Regions from separate parts of the Homo sapiens genome. Here regions 1 and 3 are each linked to region 2. Evidence: fine-mapped expression QTL. A gene starts in region 2. Each other region holds a variant in brackets. All regions are shown on one strand. Distances are from middle to middle. Region 1 overlaps CLUH (CLUH binding protein of NUMT mRNA). Region 2 holds the start of PAFAH1B1 (platelet activating factor acetylhydrolase 1b regulatory subunit 1). Region 3 overlaps PAFAH1B1 (platelet activating factor acetylhydrolase 1b regulatory subunit 1).

The links.
Region 1: its variant is fine-mapped to the expression of PAFAH1B1 in whole blood (TOPMed, PIP above 0.99).
Region 3: its variant is fine-mapped to the expression of PAFAH1B1 in whole blood (INTERVAL, PIP 0.90).

What each region holds. Positions count from the first base shown.
Region 1 is chr17:2,699,091-2,709,589 of GRCh38, forward strand. CLUH (CLUH binding protein of NUMT mRNA) reads right to left here. Exons shown (of 26, transcript NM_001366661.1): 2 at 5,272-5,474; 3 at 4,228-4,399; 4 at 2,824-2,967; 5 at 2,523-2,647; 6 at 2,276-2,430; 7 at 2,050-2,175; 8 at 1,588-1,735; 9 at 1,292-1,384. Among named protein-coding and RNA genes, the nearest start is that of CLUH, 7.4 kb to the right of the region's middle. RefSeq lists enhancers at 1,124-1,624, 7,663-8,559, 9,776-9,975. The variant G/A (reference allele first, on the strand shown) is at 4,470.
Region 2 is chr17:2,587,963-2,598,461 of GRCh38, forward strand. PAFAH1B1 (platelet activating factor acetylhydrolase 1b regulatory subunit 1) reads left to right here and starts at 5,692. Exons shown (of 11, transcript NM_000430.4): 1 at 5,692-6,044. RefSeq lists an enhancer at 4,898-5,626 and silencers at 5,461-5,680, 5,731-5,960, 6,371-6,430, 6,491-6,540.
Region 3 is chr17:2,670,671-2,679,935 of GRCh38, forward strand. PAFAH1B1 (platelet activating factor acetylhydrolase 1b regulatory subunit 1) reads left to right here. Exons shown (of 11, transcript NM_000430.4): 7 at 1,985-2,087; 8 at 3,390-3,618; 9 at 5,835-5,936. Among named protein-coding and RNA genes, the nearest start is that of MIR6776, 18 kb to the right of the region's middle. The variant C/T (reference allele first, on the strand shown) is at 5,479.

The DNA of each region.
Region 1 (10,499 bases), 110 kb after region 2:
ACTTGTGCTGAGGGAGACAGCAGGGCTTAGTGATTAACAAGCGTGCGCAGGTTTGGGATCCACCAGTTATGTGCCAGGTGAACTTGAACAGATAAAGGTATTGACCTTTACAAGTTGTCCAATATATTATAGGAAATAGTCTCTATAACGCACTTGGCACCATCTCTGGTGAAGTCGGTACCCGAGAAATGAGTTTTTGTTTCTACAATTATCATCTCTAGGCAGTATAACTATGGGAGGTTGGTTGTTTTCAGACAGGGTATCACGCTGTTGCCAAGGCTGGAATGCAGCGGCACGAGATCCGAGCTCACTGAAGCCTCGACTTCCCCTGGCTCAGGCCATCCTCCCACTCCAGCCTCCCGAGTAGCTGGGACTACAGGCACATGCCACCATGCCTGGCTAATCTTTTGTATTTTTTGCAGAGACGAGGTTTCACCATGTTTCGTAGGCTGGTTTCCAACTCCTGGGCTCAAGTGATCTGCCTGTCTCAGCCTCCCAAAGTGCTAGGATTACAGGCGTGAGCCACTGTGCCTGGCTGAGATTTCTTTTTTTTTTTTTTGAGACGTAGTCTTGTTCTGTCGCCCAGGCTGGAGTGCAGTGATGCAATTTCGGCTCACTGCAACCTCCGCCTATTGGGTTCAAGCAATTCTCCTGTCTCAGACTCCCGAGTAGCTGGGACTACAGGCATGCGCCACCACACCCAGCTAATTTTTGTATTTTTAGTGGAGATGGGGTTTCCCCATATTGGCCAGGCTGGTCTTGAACTCCTGACCTTGTGATCCGCCCGCCTCGGCCTCCCAAAGTGCTGGGATTACAGGCATGAGCTACTGAAGCCGGCCTGAGATTTTTTTTTTCTTAAGCAACTGCTTTTCCTCATTTCTCTTAGTAACCCAGCACTAATAACTTTTAAACCCCAGCAAACTAAAAGTGTTATGCAAATGAGCACCCGCCCTAGAAGGGCCATGGCCGGCCAGTGCTCGCCCAGGCAAAAGCCCCGCAGCAGTCACAGAGGGCGGGAAGCTGCACGGCCCTGGACACTCAGTCCCTATGGGAAGTAGGGCCCGCTCCTTCCAGGGACTCAAAGCCTCAGAGAGGCCAGAGAAAGGTACTGGGATGGTCTGCTGGGAGGCGGAAGGCTAGCAGACCCTGCGGGAGACGCTGACTGGCCTTCGGGGAACCTGACAGGGTTAGGGCTGCCCCTGCCTCCCTTGCTTTCCTCCTCTCCATGAGAAAACCCGTCAGCAGGTGGACAGCGGGCCTCAGACTGCCGGTCAGCAGAGGCTGCAGGCACCTTGAATATGGCCCTTTCTCGGAGCAGCCGCTCAGGCAGGTTCTTGCGAGGCAGCTCCCTCGTCGTCTGCAGCTCCTCATTCCAGTCTCGGGTCTGCAGAGAGATCAGGGAGGGAAAAACGAGCTCAGCCTGTGCCCTGTGACCTGCTCCCGGAAGTCGCTCCTTCTACCTTCCTGAGAAGAGCCCCAGACTCCCAAATGAAGTCAAGCATGGGGCCTCCAGGGAAGTGCACGGAACCAGCCCAGCACCCAGGAGGGCAGGGGTGCCCAGCGAGGGCAGGGCCAGGTTGCAGGCACCTGTCCAGGAATGTGCTCCTCATAGCCCAGCCTCGAGGTGTAGGCGTCCTCTGCACGCACGCAATCCATGGCATGCTCCGCCTGGGGGGCTGTCCAGCTGTACACCTGGAATGGGGTGGCGATCCTCTCGAACGGGTGGCGCTGGACCCTGTGGCAGGCAGGGGAGGGGGAGATGGGGCAGCCCACCAAGCTCAGAGCCCTTCCACGGGCCCCTTTTCTGAGGCCCCCGCCTGCTCCGGCATCTCCCACCCTGAGACACTGCCCTGGAGCCAGATGGAAGTGCACGGGCGCCTCTCCTGCGGCTGCTGTCTCGGCACTGGCCGACAGCTCCCTAGAGCGGGGACTCCAACACTGGGGGCCCAGGGCGGTTTCTTCAGACAGAAGCACTGGAGTGCAGGTGGGCCGGCTCACCCCATGCCCCCGTGTGCCATGAGACAAGGCGGGAGGGGACAAAGGCACTACCTTTTCTTCTGCAGCACAGCGAAGTTCTTCTTGAAGGTCGGGCTGATCTGGTTGAGCAGCTCCACTAGGGAATGGCTTAGGAAGCGGGGGCTGGCGGGCTTGGGGTTGAAGTGATAAGCTGTGGACCTGCAGGGAGAGGGCGGGCACTGAGCGGGGGCCCAGGTGTCTGCCCAGACCCAGGACGGCTGGCACGGCAGGGGGGTGTGGTGGGCTGGCAGGGACTCACTGATTCAGGTAAAAGCCCCGTGTGGACGCGGTGATGCTGACTTGCCGGTCCTCGGCTGTGATCACAAACAGGTACATGAGGTCCCCGTGCATCTTCCGGTTCCCCGGGGGCGGGTTCCATCCGCTCATGGTGAGTACTTTCAGGCACTGCAAGGGCTTCGGGAGCGGCCGAGTCTGAGGGGCCAGGCCTCTGGTGTGGGGCCTCCACCCCGCCAGGGACCCTCTTCCTCCCTCCCCCAGGATCCTACCTTCCAGTCACGGTTTTGGGGCTGCAGGGGACACAGTGGCCGCTCCCGGCTCCCTGGCAGGATGTACTCGGGTGGTGTGCAGTCGATGGGGTCCATCTCCAAGCCCTTCTTCCGCTTCCCGCTGTCTGAGGGACCCGAGGCTGGTGGTCAGCACAGGGCCACCCAGGGCCAGCTGTCTCCCTACCTCCTGATGGCCGTGGTCCGGGTGCCTCAGGCCCAGGCCCCTCGGCCCCTTCTCCAGCCCCCCACCTCCGTGCTCCCCGCCCTTTGGCCCAATCCCCGGCCCCAGTGCCTCCCGCACCTCCCAGGTCGCCGTCGGTGAAGACACTCAGGAAGGACAAGGAGTTGCAGTCAACCCCGTTGAAGGCATCGGATGGGTCCAGGCTCTTGAGCAGGTCTCGGACATGGCGCACGTGGATGCGGGCCTCACGCACCGTGTACGGCTCTGTCAGGAAGGCAGGGAGGGTATGGCGTTACCAGGGCCCTGCACCCTGAACAACCTGCCCAGCACAAAACAGGTTTTGGAGGTGCTAACACAGTGGTTTTAATTTTCAACTTTAGGTTTCCGTTTTCAAATTCCACTGTGAACACATAAGCTGGAGTTCTGGTTTTGACACCACAAACACACACACACACACACTCTGCCTACTGGTGAGCAGGGATCTTTGTTTATAAAGAACTTTCTGCCAAATGCCTCTGAAGCACACACAGGCCTCAGGCGTCCACAAGGCTGCCTGCTTTTGTGCGCCAGTGTGTCGGCTGGGCAGGGCTTTTGGAGCTGTGGGACTTCCACACCACAGCCTTGCCCTGCTCTCCCGAGGCAGCCTCATGTAGGGGTGGCCTGAGGACTTTCCAAGGCCCCCAATGTCAACACTGCCCCTATGTGGTTTCATGGGATTTTAATGGCAGTTCTTTTGGTGGAGGGGAGAGGTTCCGTGATCAACTGTGGGCGCTGTTGAGCTACAGACCTTTTCCGTCACTGCTCTCAACAGGCGGACAGGCCCTGGGGTGGAACCCAAGCAGCTTCTACCCAGAAAACTCGAGGCCACAGACCAACCGGATGGCACCTCCCCGTGCCCGACCTCCCCACTCTAGGGCTAGGAAACGTTTGGGACTTCTCATGGATCTCTACAGAACTGAACTGCGCTGACTTCACGCCCTGGGATGGTACTGCCTGATTTTTTTTTTTTAGAATCACGGCTCTGTTCTTTTGTTTTGTTTTTTTTTTTGAGACGGAGTTTCGTTCTTGTTGCCCATGCTGGAGTGCAGTGGCACGATCCGGGCACACTGCAACCTCTGCCTCCCAGGTTCAAGTGATTCTCCTGCCTCAGCCTCCCGAGTAGCTGGGATTACAGGCACCTGCCACCACGCGCAGCTAACTTTTTGTATTTTTAGTAGAGATGGGGTTTCACCATGTTGGCCAGGCAAGTCTCCAACTCCTGACCTCAGGTGATCCACACGCCTTGGCCTCCCAAAGTGTTGGGATTACAGGCGTGAGCCACCATGCCCAGCCCACGGCTCTGTTCTTTAACCCATGGGCCGTGAAGTTGGCAGATATAGGTGTGCTGGCCTGAGAAGCAGATCTGTGCTCCAATCCTGCCTCCATGAGCTCATCCGTGACACAGGGACCCTGGCATGGATGGTGCTGCCTGCCTCTGCCTCCGTGGGCCCTCCCCCGGGCAGGCTGTCCAACTTCCAGACCAACCTTCCACCACACGCAGCACAGAGCCCTCCTGCAGCCCCTCGACGCTGCGCAGCTCCGAGAAGTGGTCCAGCACGTTGCCATCCAGGTGCAGTGAGAAGCAGGTGCGGTGACACGTGTCCTCCCGGTCCATGAGCACCTGGTGAATCTCCTGCACCATCTCCTGGGGGGACACCTGCAGGGAGAAGGCCCCGCCCACCCCGGTGAGAGAGCACGTAGCGGGGAGAGAAGGCCCCAACCGCCCC[G/A]GTGAGAGGCCACGTAGCGGACAGCAAGGACAATATCCCCTTGTCCCCAGCCCAAAGTACCTTGGTCCCCAGAATAAATGCCCCAAATACTCGAATATCGGCTATCCCACTTTCTGGCTTTTAAATCCAGGCCATGTCCACACATGCCATGCCCTGTGTGTGCAGCCTGGAGCCTGGCCCACCGACTCGGCCTGCAGACCCAGAGCAATGCCCGAGCAGAGAAGGGAGATGAAGAACAGCGGGACAGAAGACGGCAGGCTCGCCCCCGGCCTTGCCCAGTGCTAAGGTGCCTGGGGCAAATGGCTTTCCCCTTCCAGAAGGGGTGCTCTGGGGCCCAAGCCTGCGGGTGCCGAGACATACGACGACCCTGTCTCGTTCCCCACTGAGTCACCGGCTTGCAAGACCTCCACGCTGGCTCTGCCCTTGGAGATAACCCAATACTACCCTCCCCTCTGGCAGATGGTAAAATCACGGCCCAGAGAGAGGTGACTTGCCTGAGGGCACAGAGCAAGAGGCTGGGGAGTCCTGGGATGCCAACACTTCCCAGCCACTATCACTCCCCTCCCCACATAGGGCTGGCAGGCCCAGCTGGTTGCTGTCCTCTAGCAATGGGGCAACGACCTGACCCTGGGCTCGATTCCCACGTCCACCACGCTAGCTGAGTGACTCTAGGGAGGGCACGGGATCCTCAGTTTCCTGCCACAAAATGGGGCCGGTAGGAGCACGAGCAAGGCTGAGCTTTCCAGCTCACCCTCCCCAGCAGGCTCAGGCCTGGCCCCCAGCACCCGTTCCTCCATCTTACCTGCAGGGAGAAGGGCTCGATCCCAGGGGCGAGGATCTTCACAGAAAAGCCCGTGTCCTGAATGACAATGACTTCCTGGCCGGTGGTCTCATCTCCCGGGCCGGCCTCGTCAAGCCCATTTTCCCTGGGTGGCTCGGCCGCCGCCGCCTCCTTCTTCAGGCTCTCTGGGCAGTCCCCGTTTAAGAGCATGACTGATGGCAGCTCTGCGGGTGACAAGAACGGGTCAGAATCAGGCAGCCTCGCTGGTCGGCGGGGCTGTCCGCCTGACCCCACACGGGGACACGTGCCTTCTGGAAAGGCATCTGCATGCCCTCGAGAGTCCCAGCCTCACGGTCGCGCCTCGCCCTCCGTGCACCTGCAGGCCACTTCCACACCCAGCCGCCCCTCCCAGCCACTGTTCCCTGGCCCACTGTGGTATGGCTTGCACCTGAACCCATGTCCCAAACCACTCTCCCCAGGGTCACCAAAGCCACCCTTCAAGCCAAGCCCGAGGGTCTCCTCCGGCCCTAACACACCTAGCTTCCCAGCAGCAGTTCCCCTCTTCCTCTCCTCTTCTCTGACCCCACACAGTGCCCTTGCCCCTCCCTCTCCAGCTCCATCCTCTTCCATCCCTCCTGAGCTGTGGTCCTGGGCTGCAGGGGGGCTGCAGGGGAGTGCCTAGGCCCAGCCTCTCCTGTTTCTGACCCCACCCCCTCCCATACACTCCTGCCCCGTGGCTCACACGGCCAATCCTGTCCTCTCTCCAGCCTTTTGGACCAAGGAGACCGCTGCCTCCCAGGCATCAACATGTGGCTGTCCCTGAGGCATCACTGAAGCCTCGTCTTGCAGGGACAGAACTCATCTTCCTCCTCAAACTGGCACCTGCTCTATCTAGTCACCCACCCTAAATCTCCCAACCCACCCACGGGACCCGGCCTCTGCAGCCACTGCCCTAGGGCAGGCATTTCCTCTATTTCAGCAGTGCCACCTGCAACCCTCCTAGGAAGCCCACTGCTTACAAGACCAAGCTTCTCAGGCCAGCGCTCTCAGGCACCCACCTGAAGTCAGCCTCAGCTCCTGCCTGCTCCCTGCTGAGGTCTAAGGACACCACACCATGCAAGCCTGGTACCGCCCACAGCCCTCCCACCGCCCTCCCACCGCTGTGCTTCTGTGTCTGTGCTGCCCCTGACATCCCATTCTGTACAGCAAACACTGACTCACCCTTCAAGGCCTAGGAGAAATAAACCTTTTCCACAGCCTGCCCAAATGACCCTTAATGGCAGAATCACACTCCCTCCCCCTTTCATTCCCAGAGACATTCGGCTGCACCCAGGGTGGCGTCCTCACCAGCAGCTCTACCCACCACCTTCTATCTTGCCCAGGCTCAACAAAAAAGGCAACAAATAAAGTACTTACTGCAAACCTCTAGCTACATCCAATATTTGAAGACAGCACCCAATCCACATGCTCCAGGGTGGGGAGCAGGTGACAAAACCTTGCATTCCTACCCAGGCACCAGTGGAACAAAGGAGAACCCCCTGTTCCGCTGAGGAGCCAAGGATCGCCTCTCAGTAACCCTCCAGCAGACACGGGCCTGCCTGGGCACCCATCTAGGAGATGAGGACCTTGGCCCCCAGGATCTGTCCATGGGCCAGGCTCACCTGCCTGGCTTGGCTTGAAGTTCAACGGTCCCAACTCTGAGGAGTGCCTGGGTTCCCTTCCAGAAAGAAGAGCTCGCCCAGCTCTGCCCATCCCATCTAGACCCCACCTCCCCTTCCCCACCCGGCTCTCAGGAGCGGGGACAGGTGCCTTTCCCAGAACTGTGTGGTCCCAATCCGGACCCACCAGAAACACGGAGCAGGAGCCTCAGGGAAGGGATGAGGCCAGTACGGAAAGGCAGAGACCGGGGGGCCTGGAGAGAGTCGCTCCCTTTCCCTGGATCCCCACGAGCAAACGAGAAACAGGACCTCTAAGAGCTCAGAGTCTCTTCCCCCTTACCCCAAAGAGGGGTATTTGAAGCCCAGAAAGGCTCGGAGCCTGGCCTAAGGTCAACCAAGTCAGAATGGGCCCCAGACTCCCTCCTGCAGCCCGCACCCTACGCCGCGGCACTCCCTCAACTCTGGCCACTGAGGACCTTCAGTAACTGTGCATGTCATGGCTCTCCACCCCACCCTCTCCAAGCCTGCAGTGGACTCCCAGGAACCACGAGGATGTACAAAGACCTCCCTTCCAGGATCCAACCGCCCCAGGAAGGGCACCCCCAATCCCCTCGCACGTGAGCAGCCCCACACACCTGCCTGACTCTAGTGACAGAGCAGAAAGACAGCCGGGGCGGTGGTCGGTCAGCTTGCAAACAGCAAGAGGCAGGGCAGCCAGGTGGAGGAACTGCCCCCACAGGGTCCCTGAGAAAGGCTGTGCTGGCTGCCAAGCCCCTGGAATAAGGGGAGAAGCAGGAAGGGCCCCCACCCAATATAGAACAGCAGTTTTGAGCTATGAGATCCCAAAAGTGGGGAGTCAAATACCTAGACAGAGACAGCCTGTGTTCTTTCGCATGTCTGGAATGGGAGGACAGAAAGGAGGGACGACAAGGCAAGGTGGCCGCGGCTCCCACTCTCCTTCCCCAGCCCAGGGAGACGACCCTCAGGGGGTACCTATTCCCTATCCCGTTTCAAAGGAATGCAGCTGGCTCCCAAGGGGCCTCCTCTCCCCAGGACAGCATGTTTTACCCTAATCCTTCCTCCTAGGAACCCCGAAGGTCTCCCCACCCCTGGATGAAGGCTGAGCGATCTCCCCCGCAGGCAGCTGGCTGGCTCACCAGGTCCCGGTGCTCACCTGGTGCAGTTGGCAGCTGCCCTCCCCTCGGCTCTGGAGTCTCAGGATGGCCGTGGCAGCAAGGCAGCCAGCTCTCCAGCTCAGCCCCAGCATTGCCCGGGTTCCTTGTTCCAGCCTCTGCCGCTACCCTTGCCCTAATGCAGCCAGTCGGCCCGGGGCTGGAGCTCCGGCTGGCTTCGGGTTTCAGTGGGGCCAGGCCTGCCATGGCAGCCCCAGGAAGGGCACACTCCCCCTGCCTGGCATCCCGCTCAAGGTCGGCCAGAAGGACGGCTGTGGGCCAGGAGAACCCGGTGGCCCCAGGACCCCAGGGGGAGCTGCTATCAGCACTCAGGCCCACCTCCCTATGCCCCCTAGAGAGGGGGTCACTGCCGGCAAAGCCGCTAGGGGGATCGGAGAACCCAGAATTTGGGGTACCTGGACCCCTCAAGATTGAGGGCCTAGGAGACTGGCTGGCAGGGGCAGGGCCCAGCAAGGGGGTCCTCTCCTCCGCTCCCATCCCAGTGGGGGTGAACAGGACCGCTTCTGCCAGCTGCCGCCAACAGCTGGCACAGACCCGGGTCCAGGCCATAAGGTGGCTGCCTCTGCCCACCAGTCCCAGACACTGAGCACCCCACTGTCCCTGGGCCAAGGGCCTGGCTGGGACCTCTGGCTCCTGCTGCCCCCTGCAGGTGACCTGGCTGCCAGCCCCTTCCTGGGAGTCACTGGTTCTGGTGGAAGGGAGGGGGATGGGCCCCCAGCTTCCCAGAGGACAACTGCACCCGTGCCCCTGGCCTCCAGGCTCCATCAAGAAGCTGGCAGGCTCCATCTTCCCTTCCCAGCAGCCCCGGCTCTGCCAGGAGGGAACCAAGTCTCTCCCAGGGGAGAACAGAGCTGGCAGCAAGAGGCCAGTGGCCGCACGGCGGGGGAGGAGGTGCCCAGCTGGCCAGGGCGCCTTCCCAGGGCCTCTGACATGCTGCCAGTGCCCAGTAAGGGCTGCCCCAGCATCCACCCTACCCAGGGTGGGCGGGAGCCAGGCTCTCACTCCATCCCCTCCCCTCCAGGACCAGGGATCAGGCAGACCCTGGGCTGCTTCACAGCCCCCATGGAAGGTTCTGGGTCTCACACAATGACCAGAGGAGAAGGACCAGGCCTAGACAGAGCCCCTCTGCTCCTACCCTCTCCTGAAATACACCCTAACCCTCCGGAGAGAGGGGTGGGGCAGGGCAGCCTGGCAGTGACCCCAGAGAAGTGTTGACAACCACCTGCACTCTGATTACCACAGAGCCAGGACTCACGCTAGGCCCAGCCCACGGCAGCTCCCTAAACCGCCGTGCCAGCCCATCTCACCTGAGGAAACTGAGGCTCCAGAAGGCTAGGAAGCAGCTGCCCAAGGTCACAGAGGCAAGAGGAGCCAACCCAGAGCAAGAAAAAACCAGGTGTTACTATCACATTTGGGATTAAGTTTAAAAAAAAAAGGAAAGAAAAAACAGGAGTGTCAGACGCCCAAGCCCATGGCTTTTGAGTCACTCCCACTGAGCGCGGGCTACCCACCCGCTCCCACCGACCTGCTCCCGCCGACCCGCTCCCATGGACCCGCTCCCACTGACCCACTCCCACTCAGCGCAGCCCACCCACCCCCTCCCGAGGGGCCCGGCAGCACCCACAGGTAGGCTGCACCTGCCTCCTCGTCCAGGCCTCAGCCTCTACTCGGGGGGGGGGGAGCAGAACTATCCCAGTCACAGCACTCCCCAAGGCCTCTACACCCTTGGGCCAATACTCCCTCCTCTCATAGTCCAGGAGCACCTCTGAGGATGTGAGCTTTAGGGGAGGGGAAAAGGAGGTCTTCTGCAGAGCGGGAGAGCCGTGCCCCAACAGCACTCTGCATACACGCAAACTCAGATGCTAGTGAAGAGACAAAGCACACCCTTGCCCCGGCCTGGAGGCGCCGGGAGCTCAAAGGCGGCAGAGAGGAGGAACTAGAAAAGAAACTTAGGCCTCCCAGAGGACCTGTGTGCTGCCCAAGCCAGGCACAATCTCACTCAGAAGACTGTGCCAGGGCCAGGCCACGCCCCAGCCAAGGCCTCAGCAAGTGAGGCTCCAGCAGGAAGTAGGGTCCGAAAAGGTGCATCACCCGTCCCGGGAGCCCAGGGCTTCAGGGAAAGGCAATGGGGCGGGCAGGCGGCCTATGGAAGAACCTACAGACCAGGCACCTGTTTGCCTCCTTCCTGTCCCACCCAGGCCAGAGGCAGGCGTTCAGGGCCTGAGGACAGTTCAGAGTTCCTCAGGCTGCTCTCCCCACATCCCATCCAAGATCCTGTTGCGGAGCTCCCATAAGCCCCTAGACTCCTTCCCCAGCTGCCAGCCTCCTCCTCCTCCCCCTCTGGGCCTCAACTCCAGGGAGCCCTCCCCTGGGCAGAAGGAACCTGACGCACCACTGT
Region 2 (10,499 bases):
ATATGATTCTTAGAAATACACAAACGTATACATGTTACATATATGTAACATATAAGCATGCATATAACATATACACATAGTTACATATATGTAACATATACACATAGTTACATATATGTAGCAGTTACATATATGTAGCATATACGCATAGTTACATGTATGTAGCATATACGTATGTTACATATACATATATGTGTGTATATATACATGCATGATCCTCAGAAACATAGATATGTGTATATATATACAGACATCCTTAGAAACATATATATGTGTATATATATACTATATATATGTTTCTAAGGATCATGTCTGTGTATATATATATACACATATATATGTATATATATTTAATTTTATTAATGTTATTTTTTTGAGACTGAGTTTCGCTCTATCGCCCAGGCTGGAGTGAAGCGATCTCGGCTCACCTCAACCTCTACCTCCCGGGTTCAAGCGATTCTCCTGCCTCAGCCTCCTGAGTAGCTGGAACTACAGGCTCGGGCTACCACACCTGGGTAATTTTTTTTTTTTGTATTTTTAGTAGAGATGGGTTTTGCCACACTGGCCAGGCTGATCTCGAACTTCTGGTCTCAGCTGATCCGCCTGCCTCGGCCTCCCAAAGTGCTGGGATTACAGGCGTGAGCCGCCACGCCCGGCAAGTGCTGCTTTTTAAATATTCCTTCTATGTCCAGGCTGAGTTTCACTCTGTTAAGAGCCTTTAATTTGTTTTTATGGACTCACAGTGTCCATGACACAGGTGGATGTCATGATGCTGAGATGAGGAAGGACGGGTCTAGTTGGACTTGCCCTCGCTGACATATCCATGCCTTGGGGAAATGCAGGTACACACAATAACTAGCTATAATCTCCCAGAGTGAGTCGCATGACAGGCGGGTCGTGATTCTCCTTTAAATGGGACCTTGATTCACATAACTTGGATGCCCAAAAGCTCCCTTCTCACAACTTGCTAATTGCTTTCTATCAAATTTGCACACATAACAATGTACATTTGCCTATAAATTATAGAGGACAGTTAATTTCTCAAAACAACACTTTAACATTTGCCCTTATCATAAACAGACTTTTGCTCTGGAGATACCTTTAGAAGACTTTTTGTCCTTTTCCCAATAGAAGTATTTTTGGAGTGTTTCTTCCAGTCAGCTTATTTGCAGAATTGTTTAAACTGACACTAATTTTACTGCAGCAATTGAAATAAATGTTTCCAGGCTGGACGTGGTGGCTCACGCCTGTAATCCCAGCACTTTGAGAGGCTGAGGTGGGCAGATCACCTGAGGTCAGGAGTTCGAGACCAGCCTGGCCAACGTGGTGAAACCCCATCTCTACTAAAAATACAAAACTTAGCTGGGCATGGTGACGGGCGCCTGTAATCTCAGCTTCTCAGGAGGCTGAGGCAGGAGAATCGCTTCACCCGGGAGGCAGAGGATGCAGTGAACTGAGATTGTGCCATTGCACTCCAGGCTGGGTGACACAGTGAGAGTCCGTCTCAATAAATAAATCAATAAATAAATGTTTATGTTTCCATTTTGAAAATGTCTACTGGAAAAATAAAGATCTGCAATTAAAATGAACAGGGAGATTCTTGGATTGTGGTAAGTAAAATGGATGTTTATACTTATTTTTTTTCAAGAAACATCATCTGAAATGTCCATTATTAAACGTTTCCTGGATGGATATAGTAAGTTCTGTATAAGTCCTTACAAATTCTGATTGATAGCACAGATGTCCTAATTCTACATTTTCAATAGACAAGTGTTTATTAAGATAGATCTATCAGGCCGGGCGTGGTGGCTCACGCCTGTAATCCTAGCACTTTGGGAGGCTGAGGTAGGTGGATTGCTTGAGCTCAGGAGTTCGAGACCAGCCTGGGCAACATGGTAAAACCCCGTCTCTACTCAAATACAAAAAAAAATTAGCCGGGCGTGATAGCGCACGCCTGTAATCCCAGCTACTATGGAGGCTGAGACAGGAGAATCGCTTGAACCTGGGAGGCAGAGGTTGCAGTGAGCCGAGATCATGCCATTGCACTCCAGCCTGGGCGACAGAGTGAGACTCCATCTCAAAAAAAAAAAAAAAAAAAAAAGATAGATCTATCATCCTAGCAGCTAACTGAAGGGAAGGTGCATAGAACCGTAACACATCACTTCACATCAAGGTAAGCACGTAACCGTTTTCTGTTCAGAAAAATCATAATCCAGGGAGAAAGTTTTATACCTTACCACAAAGGGAGTTTATTGTTTTTTGAAGGACCACTATAGAAATAAAATTTGATATAAATTTAGTGCATAATTACATCATATAGATTTTAAATCTTTCTAAATATGAGTCTGTGAGCTCAAGGTTTATAGGAGTTAGTGCTACCTATTTGTATGAAGTCAGTGTTTATAAAAGTGTTTCTGATCTCTTTCTGGGCAATTTTATTTACTTTTAGAGCATTCGTTTAAAAAATAAGGAACTGATTTACTCAGCTAATTAAATATTAAGTAGCATGATATCAGACCATAATAAATATTTTAAAAGGTAAAAATGAAGGGAGGGTGGATTCTTAGAACAAAGGGATGCTAATTTATTGCATGTTTATTGACTGTTATTGAACCCAAGCAATAGCACAGACCAAAGCTCTATGCCTCATTTTATTGTCCTTATCTGAAAATCCCAGAAATGTAAAACTGGACAAGACTTTCTAAGACAATTTGATTCATCTCTGGCAAATCTTCATGAGGCAAAAACCCAAGGCCTTCATGCAATTGGCTCATGTTGCCTTTGAACACTTAGGGGATAGAGACAATCTTTCTTTTTTACTCATTTTACTTATTTAATTTAACTTTATTTTGAGACAGGGTCTTGCTCTGTCACCCAGGCTGGAGTGCAGTGGTGTGATCTCGGTTCACTGCAGCCTCCACCTCCTGGGCTCAAACGATCCTCCCATCTCAGCCTCCCAATGGGTGGAACCACAGGCCCAAACCACCACATCTGGCTAATTTCTCTATTTTTCCGTAGAGACGGGGTTTCCCTGTCTTGCCCAAGCTGCTCTCCAACTCCTGGGCTCAAGAGATTCTCCCACCTTGGCACCCCAAAGTGCTGGGATTACAGCCTTGAACGACTGATCCCAGCCTATTTTTAGAGATGGGGGTCCAGTCTGCCCAGGATACAGTGCAGTAGCATGACCATGATTCACTGCAGCCTGGACCTCCTGGGCTCAAGCGATCCGCCTGCCTCTGCCTCCTGGGTAGCTAGGACTCCAGGCATGCGCCACCACACCCAGCTAATTAAAAGTTTTTGTTTTTGTTTGTTTTTTTGAGACAGACTCTGGCTTTGTTACCTAGGCTGGAGTGCAGTGGCATGATCTTGACTCACTGCAACCTCCGCCTCCCGGCTTCAAGCGATTCTCATGCCTCAGTCCCGAAAGTAGCTGGGATTACAGGCACACACCACCATGCCCGGCTAATTTTTGTGTTTTTAGTAGAGATGGCATTTCGCCATGTTGACCAGGCCGGTCTCGAAATCCTGACCTCAAGTGATCCACCTGTCTGAGCCTCCCAAAGTGTTGGGATTGCAGGCGTGAGTCCCCGCGCCCGGCTGTTTTTCTTTTCTTTTTTTGTTTTTAGAGATGAGATCTTGCTTTGTTGCCCTGGCTGGTCTGGATCTCCAGGGCTTGAGCAATCCTCCCATCTCATCCTCCCCAGTAGCTGGGACTACAGGCATGTGCCACCACACTTAGCTAATTTTTAAAATTTTTTTGTAGAGATGAGGTTTCACTATGTTGCACCTGCTGGTCTCCAACTCCTTGGCTCAGGTGATCCACGGCCCCCCTCCCAACCTCCCCATCCCTGCCTTGGCCTCCCAAATTGCTGGGATTACAGGGGTTAGCAACCTGTGCCTGGCAGAGATAACCTTTCTTGAACAAAGGAAACTTGTTTTGGTATCAAGCAACAGTAATGTTTACATGAGTTACCTATAAGTCCCCACGAAACTAAGATACTTTACACAGGCTGCACCTCCTCTGTAATTCTCACAAAAGCCGGGTTAGTTATTAGGTGTCTTTTATTGAGAAACTGAGGCCAAAGAGAGGTATGGTAATTTGCCCCAGGTCGCGCTTCTGGCAAGTGCGGGGTCCAGGATTTACACCTAAGTTGTCTCTTTCGTTAACTCTGCTGCTTCTCAAATGCAGTATATATATATATATTTACCTACATAAAGTGACGCAATAAAATCAGTACACATAAGCTTAAGCCTGTTTCAAGAAAAAAGCTTCCTTGGACAATACAAATGAATGATAAGATAATCTCATTTAAACCTGTTATTAAAATAATAGCCCATATTGAATTATTCAGAACCCCAAATCTCGCTTTTTAAAAATCAAGGGTCGGCTGAGCACGGTGGCTCACGCCTGTAATCCCAGCACTTTGGGAGGCAGAGGCGGGCGGATCACGAGGTCAAGGGATCGAGACCATCCGGGCCAACATGATGAAACCCCGTCTCTACTAAAAATACCAAAAAAATTAGCCGGGCGTGGTGGTGGGCGCCTGTGGTCCCAGCTACTCGGGAGGCTGAGGCAGGAGAATGGCGTGAACCCGGGAGGCGGAGCCTGCAGTGAGTGGAGATTGCACCACTGCACTCCAGCCTGGGCGACAGAGCGAGACTCCATCTCAAAAACAAAAACAAAAACAAAAAACAAAAATTAGCTGGGCGTGGTGGCAAGTGCCTGTACTCCCAGCTACTCGGGAGGCTGATGCAGAGAATCGCTTGAACTCGGGAGGCGGAGGTTGCAGTGAGCCGAGATCGCGCCACTGCACTCCAGCCTGGGCGACACAGCGAGACTCCGTCTCAAAAAAAAAAAAAAAAAAAAAAGGAAAAGAAAAGAAAAATCATAGGTATCTGTGTGGAATAAATTAACTACAAATCCCCAAGACGACTCTTGTCATCAATATTTCAATCCATAATTTAGCAAACACACACAGACATCCCTTATAGGGATACAGTTCCAGGCCTTTCTTTGGGCATCCGTTTCGAGACCTGGAGAGACTCTGATGTCTGTGTGTGACTAAGGAGAAGAATAGCTGAATCATATCCAAAAGCGAGTCCTCCCAATTAAGAATCTATAATACAAATCAAGACAATGACAGCATTCCATCTGCCTTTTAACCTCAACAGCTCCTCCTCCCAAGCCAGCCAGCCTACTCCCCTCCCTCATTCCCCCCCAAACTGGGAAATCATCTCGGAGGCCGGAGGCAGAAAGGGGCGGTAGGTGGCCGGGCCCCGCTGCCTCTCGCGCCTCCCGGGGCCCGCCACACACGGTGCCAACGGGACGCCGCGGTCGGCCGCATGAGCGCAAAAGCAGGGCAGCGAGGTGAGCAGAGCCAGAGTTCAGAAGGGGCCGCAAGTCAGACGAGGGGCTGGGAAAAAAGAGCCTCTCCCAAGGTTAACAGAAGCGTGCGGAGCGTGAGAAGCAGCACCTCGCACGCAGACTCGCCCGCCGGCCGGGTGGCACCGCTCAGCCGCCCGCCCGCTAGAAGGCAGCGCGGCCCCGGCCCGGCCCAGCCCGGCGCATGCGCCGCAGCCCCTCCTCCGCTCCCGGCGCCCGCCCCTCCCTCTTCCTGGCGGGTCTGGGGCGGCGGCGGCGGCGGCGGCGGCGGCGCGGTGACGTCAGGGCGTTGGGGCAGCTCCTGTGACAGACGGAGCTGGAGCGGCGGGGCGGCGGCGGAGTCCGGCGGCCGGGAGAGCGAGTGAGCGAGCGGAGGAGCAGCGACACGGGAGTCTAGGGAGCGAGAAGGAGAAGGAGGGGAGCGCTCGGGCGCGAGCGAGAGAAACCGCGAGCGCCGAGCTTGGACTCGAGCCCCGGAACGGCTGAGGAGCCCGCCCGCTCCCCTCCCCTCCCCCTCCCCGGGCCCGGGCCCAGCGCGCCATCCTCCCCCCTCCTTCCCTCCCTCCCTCCTTCCTCCCTCCCCTCTCCCTCCCCCTCCCCCGCCGGTGGATGGGAGTGAAGGACGGAAGAGGCCCTGCGGAGGCGGCGGTGCAGCGCTCCGGTAAGGCGGCGCGGGTCTGCGCCCTCCCCTCTGTCTCCTCCACCGCGCCCGGGCGGCTGCAGGCCGGACCCGGCGGCCTGACGATGTGGCTGCGCCGGTCCCCTCCCTCCCATTCTCCCCTCCCCCTGCCTCCGCCGCCGCCTCCTCCTTCTTCTTCTCTCCTCGCTCTCAAAATGGCGGCCGCGACGGCCGTTGAGTGAGAGACCCGGAGGAGGGGGACTGTCCGGGGAGGGCGCTGCCCTCGCTCCTCTCCTCCCGGGCCCGGCTTTGGGGGCTGCCGGCGCCTCTGCGACCCCCGCCCCGCGGCCCTCCCCAAGAAGGGATCGCCCTCCTCCCTCGGTGACTTAGCAAGAAAAGTATTCTTGGGTTGGAAGGGCGTGGGGACCAGGTAGCTCTCTGATCTTGGGGAAAAGGATCGGCCCTGCTCTCCCCGGCCGCGGAGACGAGCACCGCAGTCCCCACCCCACCCTCAGTTATCGGCTCGGGGACCGGCTCAGCCCCGCGCCGCCGGGGCACTCATAGGGCCTTCCAGGCATTCCGTCCCCGACTGGTCCTTAAGATGGGGTTGACCAGCGGAGGGTGGCCCACCGTCTCCCTGGCCCCCGGTGCGGCGGTCCAGCCTCAGCACCCGCCGAGGAGAGGCAGCCCGGCCCACCGAGCAATCCGCAGCATCCACCCACCGAATCTGGCAGGATTTTCTTTCTGCCACCGGCTCCTCGGTCGGGAGTTGCCTTTTGATGCTGTTAACATTCAGCTTCGAGGCTCCCTGCCATTCCCCTTCGTCTAATCTCATCTCCCTGCCCCTTTGGGAAACGCAGTGCCTCTGCATATTTACCCTCTTTAGCCTCCCACATGAGAAAATGCCTTTGAGGTGGTCGACACATTTTGACTCTGCACCTCTAAACGTAGCAGTAGAGGGGAAGAGGTTTTCCGTATTTAGTAGGAGAGAGCAAGGTACCATAGCTTTATATGTTATGCTACCTTTCTTCAGTGACTTAGCAAGAAACTCCTTGGGAAGAGGGCAGGAAATTTTCTTTTGGGGTTTGGGCCCAATTTATATCAGTCTTTTGGTTAAGAAAATACGCCTTTGAAGAGGAGGACCAGATTTGTGGTCTCGTTCTCAATGGGCGATGTCATGCCAAGGTCCCCCCTCCCTCTTTCCTTAAGTGGCAGTCCGGACAAATAGAGATATTACTGATATTCCCATCTCTCCTTTAAGCACACAGTCTTGGAGTTTCATAAGGTTTTAAAGGCCAAACAAACAATTTGTGCCATTTTTGGCAATTCTGTTTTTGTTGGGGGGGTGGGTTATTTTGTGTGAATTTCTTTTCGAGGCTAGGGCGGAGGAGACAGTGCTTGGGCCTTTCATACCAGTGATAATGTCATCCCTCCCTTTTTGCCACAGGAGTGTTTGCTTTTTTTTTTTTTTTTGCTGCAGCAGGGCGGCTTAATTGCTGCGGGGTCCAGTCTCATAATCAGGAAAATTTCCTGTTGACTGTGTCATAGTGATGTTGAATATATAGTAAAAGCTTTTACTTAAAAAATTCTGATTTGGTTTTAAGGCATTAGCTAGCTTTTAATCTCTAATGGGTGTCTTTTAGGACACAGTTTCACAAAATAATTAGCAGTTGCAAATTGCAGTTTTTAATAAAGCAGAAGAGTAATCTGTATTTAGGGTGATTTCTTTCGTGTTCATTAATGATCATTGTTTGGATTGCTCAGAAGGGGGGAATCTCCTAAAAGAAATTGAAGGCTGGTATATATTTTAAAATCAGAAAGGAATCCAATTTTTCACTTGAAGTATTTCTGTATATGTTGATTTTGATGGAGCAAGCCCTACGTTGGTACCTCCCCCCACATCCTTTTTTAAAAAAATGGGCTAATATTTGTGGATGCTGTGAACAGCCATTGAGCCGAGAAGACTGGGTGGAGTAAGGGAGCAGAAGCTGTGAAATGCTGTATTGCCCTTTCACAGCGTCTTTCTCTTGCTTATGTTTTGTAAGGTTATTTGATATGAATGGTTGCTACAACTAAGTCATTTCTCTGTCGTAAGTCTTAAAATCTAATGTTTTCCACCTTTTTTGCATGATGGGCATTGAATGATTGGAATAAAAAGCAATGTCCCTGCTTTAAAATAGACACTTATTGTCTCCTTATTTGTCCCTGTGTGTGTGTGTGTATATATTAATATATAAAGATACACACACACATATATCTACACTCTTGTTAATGTTTTTTATTGTTCTCGCCATATAAGTATAAATTAATGTCAGAAATATTTGGCAAGAAATAGGGGGTACAGGAATACTGCAATAATCTAAGAAAAATACTACAATTGTTTTACTTAAAACAGTAAATCTATTTGAGATTTTAAAATAGTGAACATAAAAGGTGGGGAAAAAAGGATAAGATAATTTGCATGAAAGCCCCTTCAGATCTTTTCTCTTGTGTTGCTCTTTGAAAGGGACCTTTTTGTGAGATACTGCCATAAGCTAGGGTAGGTCATTTTAATGCCCTGTATCAAGCATTCACATGAGTAGACATCTTCAAAAGAATTTCACATATAGGTGGTAAATGTGACTTTGATTAGCCTTATGAATGCTTGTCAGTGTATGATGTATTTTTACACTTTTGTTCTTTTTAATATGATTAGAAAGTAGAAGGGTTATTATGGTGAGGAAATGAGTAAGGTTGGGAATGATAATTCACTGTATTATGTGTCTGACATATCCCTATTCCTACTGTTTGTAGAATATCAAAGCACACTAAGGTCCAGGTGCAGTGGTTCACGCCTGTAATCTCAGCACTTTGGGAGGCCGAGGCAGGTGGATCACCTGAGGTCAGGAGTTCGAGACCAGACTGACCAATATGGTGAAACCCCGTCTCTACTAAAAATACAAAAAAATTAGCCATGTCTTGTGCCATGCGCCTGTAATCCCAGCTGCTGGGGAGGCTGAGACAGGAGAATAGATTGAACCCGGGAGGCGGAGGTTGCAGTGAGCCGAGATCGTGCCACTGTACTCCAGCCTGGGCGACAGAGCAAGACTCTGTCAAAAACAAACAAACAAAACCCCACACACTGAGTGGTGATTTTTCAGTAGATTGTTGTTAATCAGGAGCTTAAGATAATTTGACTTAAGGAGCTTTAGTTCCAAGTGTATGTAGTGTTTCTTGATACATGTTGGAGAATCTTAGGCTTAATTTGGAGATTAATTTTTAAAATTATTCATAGTTCTGTATAGAACTCTTAATGAGATTGGAAGGAATTTTTTAGTACAATTTTTTGTTACCTGTTTTTCCAGATAAAATATCTCTAGTGTAAAGAGATTTTGAGATGTTTCTGGGAAGGAAAAGTCAGAATCATAATTTATGCTTTTCTAGCTAGAACATCCGTGTCTTTTTTTTTTTTTTTTTTTTTTTTTGAGGGGAAGTCTTGCTCTGTTGCCCAGGCTAGAGTGCAGTGGGGTGATCTCAGCTCACTGCAACCTCTGCCTTCTGGGTTCAAGCGATTCTCCTGTCTCAGCCTCTTGAGTAGTTGGGATTACAGGTGCCTGCCACTACACCTGGCTAATTTTTGTATTTTTAGTAGAGATGGAGTTTCACCATGTTGGTCAGGTTGGTCTGGAACTCCTGACCTCGTGATCCGCCCGCCTCTGCCTCTCAAAGTTCTGGAATTACAGATGTGAGCCACCACACCCTTCCCTATTTTCTATTTTTTAAAAATAATATAAATGTTTCTCTCTCAGTTGTATACTAAGTAACAGAGAGACAGAAAGTGTGTGTGTGTGTGTGTCTGTCTGTCTGTCTGCGTATATGAGACTTTATGGCTTATATTTTAAGTATCCAGCAAAAATAAGACCCTCTTGTTTACATGTGGTTCATGTTATTCATAATTTGTCATCTTTGTGAATAAGTCATGGATGCTATAGAAATTGTCAACATTAAGATGAAGATGTCTGGCCAGACATGGTGGCTCACACTTACACTCCCAGAACTTTGGGAGGCCGAGGCGGGTGGATCACCTGAGGTCAGGAGTTCAAGACCAGCATGGCCAACATGGTGAAACCCCGTCTCTACTAAAAATACAAAAAAATTAGCCGGGCATGGTGGCGCACACCTGTAGTTCCAGCTACTGGGGAGACTAAGGCAGGAGAATTGCTTGAACCCGGGAGGTGGAGGTTGCAATGAGCCGAGATCGCACCATTACGCTCCAGCCTGGGCAACAAGAGCGAAACTCCATCTCAAAAAATAAATAAATAAATAAAAATAAGATGAAGATGTCTTAAAAAACCCAAAGCAAAATATTAGGGCAGAGTGAATTTTCAATATCTTCCCATTGAGTTCTAAAGCAGTGAGTCATGCGCTCTTTTGCCAAAGGGACTTGAGGCTCGGTTGGTTTTAAACCAAGCTGGCCATTTCTGCTTGTGGTCCTAAAATATTTTTTACTTGCCTCTA
Region 3 (9,265 bases), 82 kb after region 2:
TCGAGTGAAAACGAGCCCAGATTCTCTTGCTCACTTAAGTGAAATGAGCTGAGCGCACAGACCCCATGCCCTCGTTCATTATTTCCCGGGTCTTGTTGTGGGAACTGTTTTCTGAGGCAGTATGTTTTGTGGAAAGAGAGTAATTTGCTTTGGAGTCAGACACCTGGGTTCAAATTCCTACTTGTCTACTTACGGTATTAGAAAATTTAAACCTCTTTCATCTGCAAAACAGAGGTAATAATACCAGAGTCATAGAGTTGTCATGAGGATAAGATGAAGTCATAAGATAAATCATCTTGGTGTAGTACCTGCCACATAGGAGATGCTCATTACTTAGGGATTTTTGTTGTTTCTTTATACATGATGACATTTGAATGTTGGGATTTTGTACAAGGAACACGTTAACACATGAGTAAACTGTGTTTACCTAGAGGGCATAATTTGAAGGTTGTGTTTTCTCTGTCCCAAATTAAATGCATTGGGGAAGTTTATAATTACAGGAATTCCACGCATGAACACTGTTTTTTTGTTGTTGTTTTTTGGTTGTTTTTTTTTTGAGACTGTGTCTCACTCTGTCGCCCAGGCTGGAGTGCAGTGGCACAATCTTGGCTCACTGCAACCTCCGCCTCCCAGGTTTAAGTGATTCTCCTGCCTCAGCCTCCTGAGTATCTAGGATTATAGGCACGCGCCACCACGCCCGTCTAATTTTTGTATTTTTAGTAGAGACGGGGTTTCACCATGTTGGTCAAGCTGGTCTCGAACTCCTGACCTCCTGATCTGCCTCAGCCTCCCAAAGTGCTGGAATTATAGGCGTGAGCCACGTAAGGTCTATCATTTATTTTTCTTTAAGTTGCCTGTATCTTCTAGCTGTAACTTTAAAAAGAGTTCTTTCTAATGCATTTTTTTTTTTTACCCCCAACACCACCTTTTTTTTTTTTTTTTTTTTTCTGGAGATGGCCTCTTGCTTTGTCACCCAAGCTGGAGTACAGTGGCACAATCTTTGCTCACTGCAACCTCCACCTCCCAGGTTCAAATGATTCTCCCACCTCAGCCTCCAAAGTAGCTGGCAATACAGGCAAGCACCACCACACCCGGCTAACTTTTTTATTTTTAGTAGAAACAGGGTTTAACCATATTGGCCAGGCTGGTCTTGAACTCCTGACCTCAGGTGATCCGCCCGCCTCGGCCTCCCAAAGTGCTGGGATTACAGGCATGAACCACTGCGCCTGGCCCACCATTTTAAACAGAGAACCAATTCCCCATTTTTTGTATCCATTTGCTTTATCTTTTTTATATCTTAGAATATCAACCTAGAAGCTAGGCACAGTGGCTCACACCTATAATCTCAGCACTTTTGGAGGCCAAGGCAGGAAGGATTGCTTGAGGACAGGAGTTCGAGACCAGTGTGAGCAAAATATGGAGACCTTGTCTCTACAAAAAATAAAATAGTTGTGGGTGTGGTGGTACCAGATGTGGTGGTACACACCTGTGTAGTTCCAGCTACCCGACAGGCTGAGGCGGGAAGAGCTCTTGAGCCCAGGAGTTCAAGGCTACAGTGAGCTATGATTGCACCACTGCACTTTAGCCTGGGTAACAGAGCAAGTCCTTGCCTCACAAAAAAAAAAAAAAAAAAAAAAAAAAATGTTTCCCTAGCGTTCATATGTAAACATTCAGACTCACTGAGGTAAGTATATGAATATATTCAAATGTTGATAATCGTGATGCCTTTTGTTTTTAAACCATTTGTACAGGTTGAAATTTAATCCTAAATGGAGTTGACTATTTCCTTGTGGGTTGTTGTTTTACTGATTTTTTTAACTTTATCGTGTAAATCCAGGTTTCTTATCCAATTTGTATAAAATCCAGTGTATTTAGAACTTGCTTTGACATAGTGAAACCCCATGGTAAAATCCCATGGTCAATTGATGTTTCATTGCTCTTGGTGGTATATTACTTCATAATATATTGCTGTTATGTGTTTTAGGCCATGACCACAATGTTTCTTCAGTAGCCATCATGCCCAATGGAGATCATATAGTGTCTGCCTCAAGGGATAAAACTATAAAAATGTGGGAAGTGCAAACTGGGTAAGTAAGTTTAGTTGAAAAGGCATCAGCGGCCAGGTGCAGTGGCTCACACCTGTCATCCCAGCGCTTTGGGAGGCCAAGGTGGGCAGATCACCTGGTCAGGAATTGAAGACCAGCCTGGCCAACATGATGAAACCCCATCTCTACTAAAAATACAAAAATTAGCCGGGTGTGGTGGCGCACACCTGTATTCCCAGCTACTTGGGAGGCTGAGACAGGAGAATCACTTGAACCTGGGAGGTGGAGGTTGCAGTGAGCCGAGATCGTGCCATTGCACTCTAGCCTGGGCAACAAGAGTGAGACTCCGTCTCAAAAAAAAAGAAAAGGCATCAGCTTAAAGACATATTTATAAAAAACAAAATTGTGTTCTGGTGTTGCAGTCACTTCGACTTTAACCCGGAATGATCATTATGACAGTCATATTAAATATACTTTAAAACTAAGTTTGATCTGTACATGTCTCCCAAAAAGGAGCACAGAGACATTGTAAGGAGAGACTCTATGTCCTTGAGAAGCATTTCTGTGTAATGGCTTATTTCCTCTGTGGTCTTCTTTTAGGTGATCTCTCTGTGGGTTTAAATTAAAGTGTAAATAATCTTTGGCCGGGCGCGGTGGCTCACGCCTGTAATCCCAGCACTTTGGGAGGCAGAGGCGGGCGGATCATGAGGTCAGGAGATCGAGACCGTCCTGGCTAACACGATGAAACCCCGTCTCTACTAAAAATACAAAAAATTAGCCGGGCGTGGTGGCGGGCGCCTGTAGTCCCAGCTACTCGGGAGGCTGAGGCAGGAGAATGGCGTGAACCTGGGAGGTGGAGCCTGCAGTGAGCCGAGATCGCGCCACTGCACTCCAGCCTGGGCGACAGAGCGAGACTCCGTCTCAAAAAAAAAAAACAAAAAGTAAATAATCTTTGTGCTGGTATACCTCTGTTAGGCTGAATTTGGTTGTGCATAGAATTACACTTGATTTTTGTAGTACAAAGTTACTAGTTTTACTCAGATTAGTAGAGCATAGCTTTTTTCCAATATGGCTGGAAATACTTTTAAGTGTGCATTTAGTTTTGAAAGATTTTATTTCTTATACATATTTTATCTTCTAGATGTTGATTTTATTAGCTCCTTAATGATATGTCTGTTAGCTTATTGTTCCTACTTTAATTAACCAGGATTGTACATTTATTCTGTCGACTTGCATCTCTAACTTGGTACCATTCTCTTCATCCCAGTACATATTTTTATATCACTTCTGGGAAGTGTCCTGATGATTGTCATTCACAGTGTAAGTTATTATTTATATTGACAGCTACTGTGTGAAGACATTCACAGGACACAGAGAATGGGTACGTATGGTACGGCCAAATCAAGATGGCACTCTGATAGCCAGCTGTTCCAATGACCAGACTGTGCGTGTATGGGTCGTAGCAACAAAGGAATGCAAGGCTGAGCTCCGAGAGCATGAGCATGTGGTAGAATGCATTTCCTGGGCTCCAGAAAGCTCATATTCCTCCATCTCTGAAGCAACAGGATCTGAGGTACTGTATATACAAATGTCTTCATGGTTTTATTGCTGATATCTGAAGTCCTTAGATAACTTTGCTAATTCCCTGTTTCAGGGCTGTTAATGCATTTAAAAATCTGCATCCAGCAATTCTGAATCTTGAAATTCTCTACTCTTCACAGCTTGCTGATGTGTTTACATTATTTAACCAGTGATGATTATTGCTGTCAGCCTATCCTTGATTTGATACGTGATGGGTATTCTCCTAAAGAATTAAAATTTATCAGAAAAATCAGTGTTATGAGATCATCTCAATGTAAAACAAAACCTGAGGGAGAGGTTAAAGTTTTCTGTCAGAAAAATAGCCTTCATTAATGAAGATAATGATTTTATTTATAAATTTATGGTAAAATGCAGTTCAGTATTTATTTTTTAAAATTAATTCCAGATGTGATAGTATAAATGTTTTTTTAAATGAAGACTAATCCATATGGCAGCCTCTGATGTTCTTGATCATTTAAAAGTACTAGCTGAGCCTGGAGTTTTAACGCATTTCTTTGTGATCTTTATGGTTTTGGTCTTTATTATTAATATGTTAAAAATTACAAGGTACAGCGGCACATGGCTATAGTCCTAGCTACTCAGGAGGCTGAGGCAAGAGGATCACTTGTGTCCAGAAGTTAAAGTTCAGCCTGGGACAACATAGCAAGATCCCTGTTTCTAATAAATGAATGAAAATGAATGGTCTAAAACTTTTGTTTGTTTTTGAGACAGTCTCACTCTGTTGCCCAGGCTGGAGTACAGTAGCGTGATCTCGGCTCACTGCAACCTCCGCCTCCCAGGTTCAGGCGATTCTCCTGCCTCAGCCTCCTGAGTAGCTGGGACCACGGATGCATGTACCACCCTGCCAGCTAATTTTTATATTTTTAGTAGAAACAAGGTTTTGCCATGTTGGCCAGGCTGCTCTCAAACTCATGGCCTCAAGTGATCCGACCACCTCAGCTTCCCAAAGTTCTGGGATTACAGGTGTGAGCCACTGTGCCTGGCTTCACATTGATTTTGACAGAGGCATTCCTATCATGTATTTTTAAAACTACATGTCAATAAACAAAGGAGGCAGTTTCCTCTCCCTCTACCCCCATCCCACTTATTTTTCTAAATGAATCTTCTCTTGTGAGTTCTCTTTATTTTGATTGGCCCATTGCATTTTGAGATTCTGTTTACTGCCCTCTGGTGGTGGTTACATGCTGTATGTCATAAATTTGATTCTGGTGTGGTGGCTCACGCCTGTAATCCCAGCACTTTGGGAAGTCAAGGCAGGAGGATCACTTGAGCCCAGGAGTTTGAGCAACATAGCGAGACCCCGTCTCTACAGAAAACTTTTTTTTTTTTTTTAAACTCACCACTATACTAATGACGGAAAAAATTTTCAAAAACTTAGCTAGGTGTGGTGGTACACTCCTGTAGTCCCAGCCACTAGGGAGACTGAGACAGGAAGATTGCTTGATCCCAGGAGTTCAAAGCTGCAGTGAGCTATGATTGTTCCACTGCACTCCAGCCTGGGTGACAGAATGAGACCCTGTCTTGAAATAAATAAATATTCCCTAATCCAGATCAAAAAAATAAATAAGTAAATTTGGTTTTGGTTGGATTTGTAAAAGTTAAATTAAATAGTGATTACAGAAATCTTGAAAAGTAAATTTATTATCTGTTGGTTTTATGAAAACTGAGTCCTAACCTAAATAGAGACTTCTGTTCTTACATTATCTGAGTCCTTCCTGTGTAGCATAGGTATGGTGTGAAAGACTTGTGTATTTCAACAGATAAAAACAAATTGGGCTGGGCGCAGTGGCTCACGCCTGTAATTCCAGCACTTTGGGAGGCCGAGGTGGGC[C/T]GATCGATCATCTGAGGTTAGGAGTTCAAGACCAGCCTGCCCAACATGGCAAAACCCCATCTCTACTAAAAATACAAAAATTAGCCACATGTGGTGGTGCGTGCCTGTAATCACATCTACTTGGGAGGCTGAGGCAGGAGATTCGCTTGAACCCGGGAGGCGGAGGTTGCAGTGACCCAAGATTGCACCACGGTACTCCAGCCTGGGTGACAGAGCCAGACTCCGTCTGAAAACAAACAAAAAACCAAAATGCAACAAAAAAATTGGAAATATATATCATTATTAGATAGAAGCCATTTAAAGTCCATACCTAACTTCTTGTGTGGGAAACTTAATTTTTATTATGTTTTCTGTAGACTAAAAAAAGTGGTAAACCTGGGCCATTCTTGCTGTCTGGATCCAGAGACAAGACTATTAAGATGTGGGATGTCAGTACTGGCATGTGCCTTATGACCCTCGTAAGTTTGCATAATCTTACCATTTCTTTTGCATCTTCACTGTTTATACCTTTTTGGATTAATGCTTTATGATATCTTAAATAATCTGAATTATTCTGGGCTTTAAAATAACTTCTTTATAAAGATAGTTTTCCTTTAGCTTTTGTTGTTGTTATAGTGATGTGAAAGTTATTTCTCTAGAATGCAGATTCTATAAAGAATCTGTAGAGCCAGTCGGTGTTTGAGGGGGAGATGCTGCTAGCTCACTGTATCTTTAAAAATTGTGTAATATCTCGGCCGGGCGCGGTGGCTTACGCCTGTAATCCCAGCACTTTGGGAGGCCGAGGCGGGTGGATCACGAGGTCAGGAGATCGAGCTAACTTGGGGAAATCCCGTCTCTACCAAAAAATACAAAAAATTAGCTGGGCGTGGTGGCGGGCGCCTGTAGTCCCAGCTACTCGGGAGGCTGAGGCAGGAGAATGGCGTGAACCCGGGAGGTGGAGCTTGCAGTGAGCCGAGATTGTGCCACTGCACTCCAGCCTGGGCGACAGAGTGAGACTCCATCTCAAAAAAAATAAAATAAAACAAATGTGTAATATCTCTTACGGAGAAAAAGCAGCATTCTTAGAGACCTGTTCACTGTTGAAGATGTTTGTTTCTCTGTTTCACTTTATTTATATGAATCCTTTTAACTGTTATACCTCCTTGCTCACATGATCTAGTTTATTTGGCTTATTTAGGAGCATCTGTATTTCCATAGAAAGATATGTCAATACTAGTAAGGGATTGTGGACATTCCTATGTGCCTAAAGGAGTTCCAAGGAGATCTGTGGATGTTTGTTTAGTAGTAGTTTTTATAATTTGGCATCCACATTTGTTTAGAGATTTTTTAGGTGCTAATGATACCTTGAAGTGATTGTCTCTCTGTAGGATATGACAGACATATGTGGAAGCATCTTCAAGAACTGATTAGAAAATGAAACTCTCGGCCGGGCACGGTGGCTCACGCCTGTAATCCCCGCACTTTGGGAGGCCGAGGCGAGCAGATCACGAGGTCAGGAGATTGAGACCATCCTGGCTAACATGGTGAAACCCCGTCTCTACTAAAAATACAAAAAATTAGCCGGGCATCCTGGCGGGTGCCTGTAGTCCCAGCTACTTGGGAGGCTGAGGCAGGAGAATGGCGTGAACCCGGGAGGCGGAGCTTGCAGTGACCGGAGATGGCACCACTGTACTCCAGCCTGGGCGACAGAGCGAGACTCCGCCTCAAAAAATAAATAAATAAATAAATAAAAAGAAAATGAAACTCTCCTCTAGTAGTATTCTGAGCGGAGTTCAGCTATACCATGTTGCTGTTAAGAAAAGATGATATATAATTAAAATAAAGCAGGCCAGGCGCAGTGGCTCACTCCTGCAATCCCAGCACTTTTGGAGGCTGAGGCAGGTGGATCACCTGAGGTCAGGAGTTCAGGACCAGCCTGGCCAACATGGTGAAACCCCGTCTCTACTAAAATTACAAAAATTAGCCGGGCGTGGCCAGGCGCGGTGGCTCACGCCTGTAATCCCAGCACTTTGGGAGGCCGAGATGGGTGGATCACCTGAGGTTGGGAGTTCGAGACCAGCCTGACCAACATGGAGGAACCCCATCGCTGCTAAAAACACAAAATTAGCCAGGCATGGTGGCACATGCCTGTAATCCCAGCTACTTGGGAAGGCTGAGGCAGGCAAATCACTTTAACCTGGGAGGCGGAGGTTGCAGTGAGCCAAGATCACGCCATTGTACTCCAGCCTGGGCAACAAGAGTGAAACCATCTCAAAAAAAAAAAAAAAAAAACCCGGGCATGGTGGCGCACGTCTGTAATCCCAGCTACTCGGGAGGCTGAGGCTTGAGAATCGTTTGCACCTGGGAGACGGAGGTTGCAGTGAGCCGAGATCGCACCATTGCCCTCCATCCTGGGCAGTGAAGTAAGACTCTGTCTCCAGGAAAAAAAAAGAAAAGAAACAAGAAAAACATACTCTTGGCCAGGCACAGTGGCTCACACCTGTAATCCCAGGACTTTGGGAGGCCAAGGCAGGAGGAGCCCAGGAGTTTGAGACCAGCCTGAGCAACATAACAAGACCCTGTCTCTACCAAAATAAAAGTTTAAAAATTAGTCATGCATGATGATGCATGCCTATAGTCCTAGCTACTTGGGAGGCTAAGGCAGGAGGATTACTTGAACCCAGGAATTTGAGGCTTTAGTGAGCCGTGATCATGCCACTATACTCCAGCCTGGGCAACAGAGTTGCTGTCTCTTTTTAAAACAAAACAAAATTTTGCAGTGCTGTGCTATAACTGCACTATCCAGCGTGGTAGCTACTAGCCACATGCAGCTATTATACTCTTGAAATGTGGCTAGTGAGACTGAAGAACTGAATTGTTGGTTGTATGTAATCTTAATATTATATATTAAAGTAGGCGTACATGGACAGTAGCTACCATGTTCAACTGTGCAGTTCTAAGCCTTTTTCTTTAATGTGTAGATGAATGTGCTATTTTTTATAAAAATGGTATCATGCCCCTTAAGGTAGCTTTGTAGCAAACCTTTAATTTAGAAAGTATGTGATCCTTGCTTATGTTGTTAGATGCTCTTCTACACTGATCTACAGACAATGCTTTGTGAACATCTTTGCTAACTAAATCTCTGGGCATGTCCTTAAAGATAAATTGCAAGAACAGAACTGCTGCGACAGGGGAAATATGGATGGATAGATGGATGGATGATTAAATGGATGGATGATTAGATGGATGAATGATTGGATGGATGGATGGATGGATGATTGGATGGATGGATAGATGGATGATTGGATGGTTGGATGGATAGATGGATGATTGGATGGATGGATGGATGATTGGATGGATGGATGGATGGATGATTGGATGGATGGATGGATGGATGATTGGATGGATGGATGGATGGATGGATGATTAGATGGATGATTAGATGGATGATTGGATGGATAGATAGATGGGTGGGTGGGTGGATGGATGGATGATTGGATGATTGGATGGATGGATGGATGGATGGATGGATGGATGGATGGATATATAGATATATAGTGAATGCCTGTATATCCTTCACTTAGTTACCATTTGTTGGTTTTCCTTCATGTATGTGTGTATATTTTGCTGAAATCATTTGAGCGTTCTTTGCAGACATCGTAACACTTTACCCCCAAGTATTTTAGCATGAACCACCTAAGAACAAGGATAGTATATAAATAACCAAAATAAAATTATTCACACTCAAGAAATTTACCATTGATAGACTACATATTGAGATTTGTTCTTGTTATTTCCATAATGCCCT